Homo sapiens: one gene and its partner. The protein of the gene in region 2 purifies or fractionates together with the protein of the main gene of each other region. This does not show direct contact. Each region holds a gene or a part of one and is shown on either strand. Other genes may lie near its edges. The genes, in order: MCEE and LYRM7.

The links.
Region 1: the proteins of LYRM7 (region 2) and MCEE purify together in Homo sapiens (co-immunoprecipitation; one large-scale study listed by IntAct). This does not show direct contact.

Annotation. Positions count from the first base shown.
Region 1 is NC_000002.12:71,119,934-71,123,756, forward strand, and holds part of MCEE (methylmalonyl-CoA epimerase, mitochondrial precursor), read right to left. Parts: intron 1-3,823. UniProt on the Homo sapiens protein: Methylmalonyl-CoA epimerase involved in propionyl-CoA metabolism.
Region 2 is NC_000005.10:131,201,724-131,206,031, reverse strand, and holds the end of LYRM7 (complex III assembly factor LYRM7), read right to left. Parts: 3' UTR 604-4,308; downstream 1-603.

The DNA of each region.
Region 1 (3,823 bases), on a different chromosome or scaffold from region 2:
CCGTAGCTACTCAGGAGGCTGAGGTAGGAGGGTCGCTTGAGCTCAGGAGTTCCAGGTTGCAGTGCGTAATGATTGTGCCACTGCACTCCAGCATGGGTGACACAGTGAGACCCTCTCTCTGAAGGAAAAAAATTGTAGAGGGAGAAGGGTGTCTGAAGGGTCCCAGAAAAGGGTCCTTCTGGAAAAGGAATGTTACTCAGGTGTTACAGAGCAGCAGCTGTTTACCAACCAACACGGAAGCATTTAAATATTTTTACAAACTCAATACAAATTTGAGTAAGTATTTCTGGTGGCCCTTAAAGTCTTCACTGTGACACACTGTGCTGTCTGGCTAAGTTCTCCAGAGAAAGCACGGCCAGCTTTGTCTCCTCAAGCAGAGGCACGCAGAAGGCAGGGAAGGTGACCCCCCTCTTGCCATCGCAGGCAGCAGTTAGGAGCACAAACACAAGCTGTGCCAGAAAACAGTGGGTGATTCAGTCCATACTTGAGCAAGAGAAGAGATGGGACAAGATGCCCTCTAAAATTCCTCTAGTGAGAGGCAAAGACACACAAGAAATATGAGTAAACCTCACAAGAAAAAGTAGAAACCAACTCAACCTCGACAGAAAAATGCTAATTAACTATTGAGATCGTAATCCACATGTGAGAAAGGAACATTTCGTCAAGTGAGTCAACAAAAACCATGGAGCATGCACCAACAGATATATGCTAAGTCAGAGGTTTTATAAGATCCTGGTGAAAAAGGACAGAAAGTAGCCCTGTGATTACAGAGGGGAAAGCCAATTCTCTGATGAGTGGTTCAACATTTTTTTTTTTTTTCCTGAGATGGAGTCTTGCTCTGTTGCCCAGGCTGGAGTGAAGTGGCATGATCTTGGCTCACTGCAACCTCTGCCTCCCAGGTTCAAACGATTCTCCTGCCTCAGCCTCCCAAGTAGCTGGAATTACAGGTGTGCGCCGCCACGTCCAGCTAATTTTTGTATTTTAGTAGAGATGGGGTTTCACCGTGTTGCCCAGGCTGGTCTCAAACTCCTGAGCTCAGGCAATCTGCCCACCTCGGCCTCCCAAAGTGCTGTAATAAGCATGAGCCACCATGCCCAGGTGACACACCACTTTTTAAAAATCACCAAGCGTGGCATCCATTGATGGCCTCCAGTACCTTTCTCCTTTTCCTCCTTTTAATTACAGCAACCCCCAAGCTTCAGCAGGGCACATAACTGCCTAGCTAGAGACTACATTCCCCAGCCTCCCTTGCAGAGAAGTGTGTCATGTAACTAAGCTTGGGCCAATGGGATAAGGACAGAAGTGATCCTAGAGCATCTCCTTAAAGCCACTTGCCAGGTATTCCCACTCCACCTTCCCTTCCCTTCCCTCTGGCTGGCAAATGGTGATGCCTGGAGCAACCTTGTAAGTCATGTGTCATGGACAGCAGAGCTGCCCATCAGCCTGGGATAGCTAATATTAGACTGAAAACAGAAAAATAAAATCTTGTTAAGCCACTTAATTTTTTTGTGGAGGGCAGAGAATGATGATGGGGGTATTATACTAAAATAGCACCTAACTAACCACTGTTCACACCTTCTCCTCTTACCTACCTTCATTTTATATCCAATACATTTGCATGTCCCCCTTATAATCTCTGCTTTTGAATCTGCCATTACTGAACTTCCACTATTCCTTACTTAACTGAACTAAATCACATAGCTGAACTCCTTTGAAAGCATGGGCTCTCTTGATGGAATACTGATAGTGCAGTGTGGGAGAGGGGGGAGTGGATTCAAAGGTCCTGCTTCTCATCCTGGGGGGTGGGGTAGGGCTTAGACAAACACTCAGGTCCACTGACAAAGACCTGCAGCCAAAAGTAACTCCCTAAAAATAAAATAAAGGCTAATATTAGGACTTGTTTAGTTCCCTGCTTAAGGTCTTATAGCTTCCCCACCGCAAATTTAAAACTCAGTTAATATAATGAAGGCAACTGGCATCATGGGTAAGAGTGCAGACCCTGGAATCAGAACCAATCTGGGATTCAGCCCCATACCTGCTATTGATATGACCATGGGCAAATTAACTACTCTGTCTCAGTTTCCTTTCCTGTCAAATGGGGATAATAGGGCCCTCACAGGGTAGCTATGAAAATTCAAGAAAATAGTATGTGTTGAGTTACTTTGTAGACATACTACTAGAGGACTCACTAAATGTTAGTTCTTTTTTTTGAGACAGGGTCTCGCTCTTTCATTCAGGCTAGAGTGCAGTGGTGTGATCACGGCTCACTACAACCTCCACCTCAGCACTTCCTGGGCTCAAGTGATGCTCCCACATCAGCCTCCCAAGTAGCTGGGACTACAGGTGCATACCACCACACCTGACTAGCTTTTTGTATTTTTAGTAGAGACACGGTTTTGCCATTTGGCCCAGGCTGGTCTCAAACTCCTGGGCTCGAGCAATCTGCCCACCTTGGCCTCCCAAAGTGCTAAGATTACAGGTGTGTATTAGTCCATTTTCACGCTATTGATAAAGACATACCCGAGACTGGGCAATTTACAAAAGAAACAGGTTTAATGATTTACAGTTCCACGTGGCTGGGGAGGCCTCACACTCATGGCAGAAGGCAAGGAGGAGCAAGTCACATCTTACATGGATGGCAGCAGGCAAAGAGAGACAGATTGGGCAGGGAAAATCCCCCTTATAAAACTGTCAGATCTTGTGAAACTTATTCACTATCACAAGAACAGCACGGAAAGACCTGCCCCCATGATTCAATTACCTCCCACTGGTCCCTCCCACAACATGTGGGAATTCAAGATGAGATTTGGGTGGGGACACAGCCAAGCCATGTCGAGGCATAAGCCACCACACCCAGCCACTAAGTGTTAGCTGTTATGATAACTCTATGCCTTTCCACATGCAATTCCCTCTGCCTGAAATAACTTTCTCCTTTTGTTCACCTAGGGAATTCCTTCACATTCATTGTAACTTATGCTCTGTGAGGCCTTCCCAGCAACTCAATCTGCCAGGAGCAATCAATCTCCTTCATCTGTGCTACTGCAAAGTCACATATATCAATTCTACTTATCATAGTATATTGCACTTGGGTGTTTAAATTTCTGACCCTCCTCACTATGGACATGACTCATGTCTTATTCACTGCTAAATCCCAAGTACTTGGCAGAATACACATTATAGGGTCTCATACATGTTTGCAATAATGAACTGAATACATCCTTGAATTCACTCTAGAATCAAATGACCTCTCCTCTGTATTAGAAATTTGGCCTAACAGGCCAGGCAAGGTGGCTCACGCCTATAATCCCAGCACTTTGAGAGGCTGACGTAGGTGAATCACCTGAGGTCAGGAGTTTGAGACCAGCCTGACCAACATGGTGAAACCTCATCTCTACTAAAAATACACAATTAGCCGGGCATGGTGGCGCATGCCTGTAATCCCAGCTACCTGGTAGGCTGAGGCAGGAGAATCACTTGAACCCAGGAGGCAGAGGTTGCAGTGAGCCGAGATCACGCCACACTGCACTTCAGCCTGGGCGACAGAGTAAGACTCCGTCTCAAAAAAAAAAAAAAAAAGAAAAGAAAAAGAAATTTGGCTTAACAATTATGTCATTCTTTCTATAAAAAGAATTGTCCTAGCAAATTAAATCGATGCATAATTGTCATTGCTGATATTCTAAAAGGCAGTTATCTGAACATGAACATCTATAGAAATGTTCTCTAATGGACTTTTCTTGTCTAACATTTCTTCACATTCCTTTAAAAATTGTTGGCAGGTGCAATTCAGAAGATCTTAAAAATTACAGTAATTGAAAATGTATTG
Region 2 (4,308 bases):
ATCTCTTCTAGAAACACCCTCACAGACACCACAGAAATAATATTTACCAGCTATATGGGCATCCCTTAGCCCAGTCAAGTTTATCATAAACTAAAAGACAAGCCACATATTGGAAAAAGATAATTAACAAAGGACTAGTATCCAGAATATATAAAGGATTGGTTAGAAAAAGCCAGACAACCCAACAGAGAAAAGAGGACAAAAGATAGAGACACACATTCATAATGGGAAACCATAATGGCCAATAAACATATGACAAGATGATCTGCCTCCCCAGTAATTAAGAAATGCAAATTAAAACAATATACCATTTTATATCCATTAGTTTGACAATGAGAAAAATCATACATAACAGTGAGGATGTGGGGAAATGGGACCTTTCACACACTGTCGATTGGAATGTAAACTGGTACAACTATTTTAAAGAGCAATTTAGAAATTTCTGGAAAAGCTGAATATGCACATACGCTAGGACTCAACAGTTCTGCTCCTTGGTGTATGTCCAGGTAAACTTTTTCTTGGGTGTAAAAATCTATGTGCCAGAGTTTTTTGCAAATTGGTTTGCAACATAAAAAAACTGGAGACAATACTATCACTCATCAATGGAGACATGAATGAACAAACTTGTTTATTCTTACAATGGAATAAAACTTAAAAGACCTGAATTCATGCCAAATTATGGCTAAATCGCCAAAACCTAATGTATGATGAAAAGTTGCAGAATACATGGAGCATAACGCCATTCATTTACATTTTAAAATCACAAAACAACTGTTTTTTGAATACATACACACTTGGTAAAAGTATAAACACAAGTAAGGGAATGATATCCACAAACTATAAAACAGTAATTATCCTGGAGAGAGAGGAGAAAGAGAAGGGTGGGGTTTAGCTTTATAAGATTTTATGACTTAGACCTTTAAACAAACATGGCAAAATGTAACAACTATCAAATGTGGGAATTAGGTTCATGAGTGTGCTATATTATTTGCTAATATTTAAAATATTTTATAGTTAATTTTATATTAAAAATCACTAGTAGCTTATTGTCTTTTAACACTTACATGTTGATATACTCACTGTAAACAATATTTAAACGTGCAGGAGTAAATAGAATAAAAGTTCTCACTTACTGCTTCCTTCCCTAAATCTCTTTTCCTTCCCGATTAAGATTAATCATGTATCGTTTCTACCCATTTGTACATATATATGCAAATATGTACACAAAAAGTTTTCTTGTATATAAGTGAATTTCTAGCAACACCTGCTTACACACACACACACACACAAATGAACATCCGTTTTCTGAAATGCTTGGGATCAGAAGTGTTTCAGATTTCTTTTTTTTTTTTTTTGTATTTTGGATTATTTGCATTATATACTTACTGGTTGAGCACTCCAAATCTGAAAATCTGAAATCTTCCAGTGGCCATTTCCTTTGAGCATCAGTCATGTTGGTGGGTCAGAAAGTTTTGGACTTTGGAGCATTTGAATTTCTGGATTAGGGATACCCAAACTGTGTGTGTGTGTGTGTGTGTGTGTGTGTGTGTGTGTGTGTGTGTGTATCCTCATCCTTTTCAACTCTTGGAAAATATTCCAGAGTATAAATAAGCCACCTTTTCTTTCATTGTACCCTAACTTTGGAAACTCAGTCTGTTTTAAATTGTTTAAAATTATAATGTTACAGCAATTTCTGTACATATACCTGAGTACACATTTATTAGTATTCTTTGAGTTTTTGAGAAATAGACTGAATATATTTAAAATTTTGATGATGTCAATTTTCCTTTCAAAAAGGCCCTATAGTCAGGTGTGGTGGCTCAAGTCTCTACTCTCAGCTATTAATGATGTTGCGAGGATTGCTTGAGTCCAGAAGTTTGAGTCCAGCCTAGACAACACGGAGAGATCTTGTCTCTAAAAAAAAAAAACCCAAAGAAACAAAAGGCCCTATAATTTATATTCCTTTAAAAATGATATGACAGTGGCTATTTCCTTATAGTCTTACAACCTTTAAAAATATTGGATATGATTGTCTAACTTGTGACAACTTGATGAACAAACATGTTTCATTTTAATTTACATTTCTCTCATCACTAGAGACTTAGTATTTCTTCTTTTGTGAATTTCTTATTTGTATCATTTGCCTATCTTTCCATTGAGTTATGTTTTGCTAACTGATTCACAGGATCAATTAACTATTTCAATCATGACATAGGTGGCAAATAACTTTCTCTAAACTTTATTTATAGTAGCTTTCACAGAATACAGAAGTTTTATATTTTTATGTGGATATATTTGTCAACTTGTTGGGATTTCGATAAATGTTTTTTCTATTTTTGAGATGGAGTTTCGCTCTTGTTGCCTAGGCTGGAGTGCAATGGTGCGATCTCGGCTCACTGCAACATCTGCCTACCGGGTTCAAGCGATTCTCACGCCTCAGCCTCCCGAGTAGCTGGGATTACAGGCATGCACCACCACGCCTGGCTAATTTTGTATTTTTAGTAGAGACGGGGTTTCTCCATGTTGGTCAGGCTGGTCTCAAACTCCCAACCTCAGGTGATCCACCCACCTAGGCCTCCCAAAGTACTGGAACTACAGGCATGGGCCACTGCACCTGGCCTCAATAGATTTTTGAAAAACTGTCATCTCCAGAATTTTCAATTGTCCTATCTAGGAACATAGTATATCTCTCCTTTTTAAGTGTTATAGCTTATTTTAGAAGTCTATTCCCAGACTTTAAAAAGTCTATTTTACAGTTTTGTTTGCAATTATAAATAGGATCTGTTTTCCATTTCTGATTGGTGACAACTGATATACAGTAAAACTATATTAATTTTGCATGTATCCACTTTGGCTTCAGAAAACTCACCTTCAGAACTGGAATCTTCATTTCTTTGTTGACCTATGGCTTTGTGTTTATGGTTAAATTATGTGCTTTGTCAATAGGTATAGAAATTCCACATATTCTTATTCTTGTGTGCTTTTTTGGTATTGTACTGATGCTGTGAGATGCATCTACAGGAAAATAAGAACTAACTTAAACACAGTTTGACTAAAATCTTAATTTTAATGTTCTGAATTAGATGTTGTACAAACTACCTGCCATATTCCCCCAGCTTCGAATCTACATATGCTTCTCAAATCTGACTCTCCTGCTATATACCATTTCTAACTTCCGCTAAAAGATTGTGTTAGAAAGTCCTGCTGGGCCTCTGAGCCTGGATATTTGCAATTAGAATTCATATACCCCACTTTCACTAGATCTCAATAGTCAAAGCAAAATTATATTTGGGCAACCCCTTGTGTGAATACAGAAAACTTAAAAAAAATAACCAAATAAAAAACATTTAATTAAAGCTGGTTATGGTGGTATGCACCTGTAGTCCTAGCTACTTAGGAGGCTGAGGCAGGATGATTGCTTGAGGTCAGAAATTCTAGGCTGCAGTGTGCTATGACTGTGCCTATGAATAGCTACTGCACTCCAGCCTGGGCAACATGGTGAGATACCCATGTGTAAAAAAGTTTTCTTTTTTTCTTTTTTTGAGACGGAGTCTTGTTCTCTCAGGCTGGAGTGCAGTGGCACAATCTTAGCTCACCACAACCTCTGCTTCCCTGGCTCAAGTAATTCTCCTGCCTCAGCCTCCTGACTAGCTGGGATTACAGGTGTGTATCACCATGTCCTGCTAATTTTGCATTTTTAATAGAGATGGGGTTTCTCCACGTTGGTTGGGCTGGTCTCGAACTTCCGACCTCAGGTAATCCACCTGCCTCAGCCTGCCAAAGTGCTGGGATTACAGGCGTGAGCCACCACACCCAGCCATGAATTACTTTATCTAATTAAACTATTAAATAACCAGTTAAAATCCATTTGAAATATAAATATATGATTATAAGAATAGGCAGGGTGCAGTGGCTTACACCTGTAATCCCAGCACTTTGGGAGGCTGAGGTGGGAGGATCAACTGAGCTCAGGAATTTGAGACCAGCCTGGCCAACATAATGAGACCTTGTCCTTACTAAAAATAAAAAAAATAGCTAGGTGTGGTGGCGCATACCTCTAGTCTCAGCTATTTGGGAGGCTTAGTTGGCATAACTGCTGAGCCCCAGGGGTCAAGGCTTTAGTGGACCATGACCATGCCACTGCACTCCAACCTGGGTGACACAGCAGAACTCAATCTCAAAAAATAAATAAATAAATTAGCATATGCTATATAAGAATAGAGTGCGACATCTTTCAGAATTTTGTGACAGTCAAGCCTGTTGTTGACATGTTTATATACTTCACAGGAACTTTATTTATTTATTTAT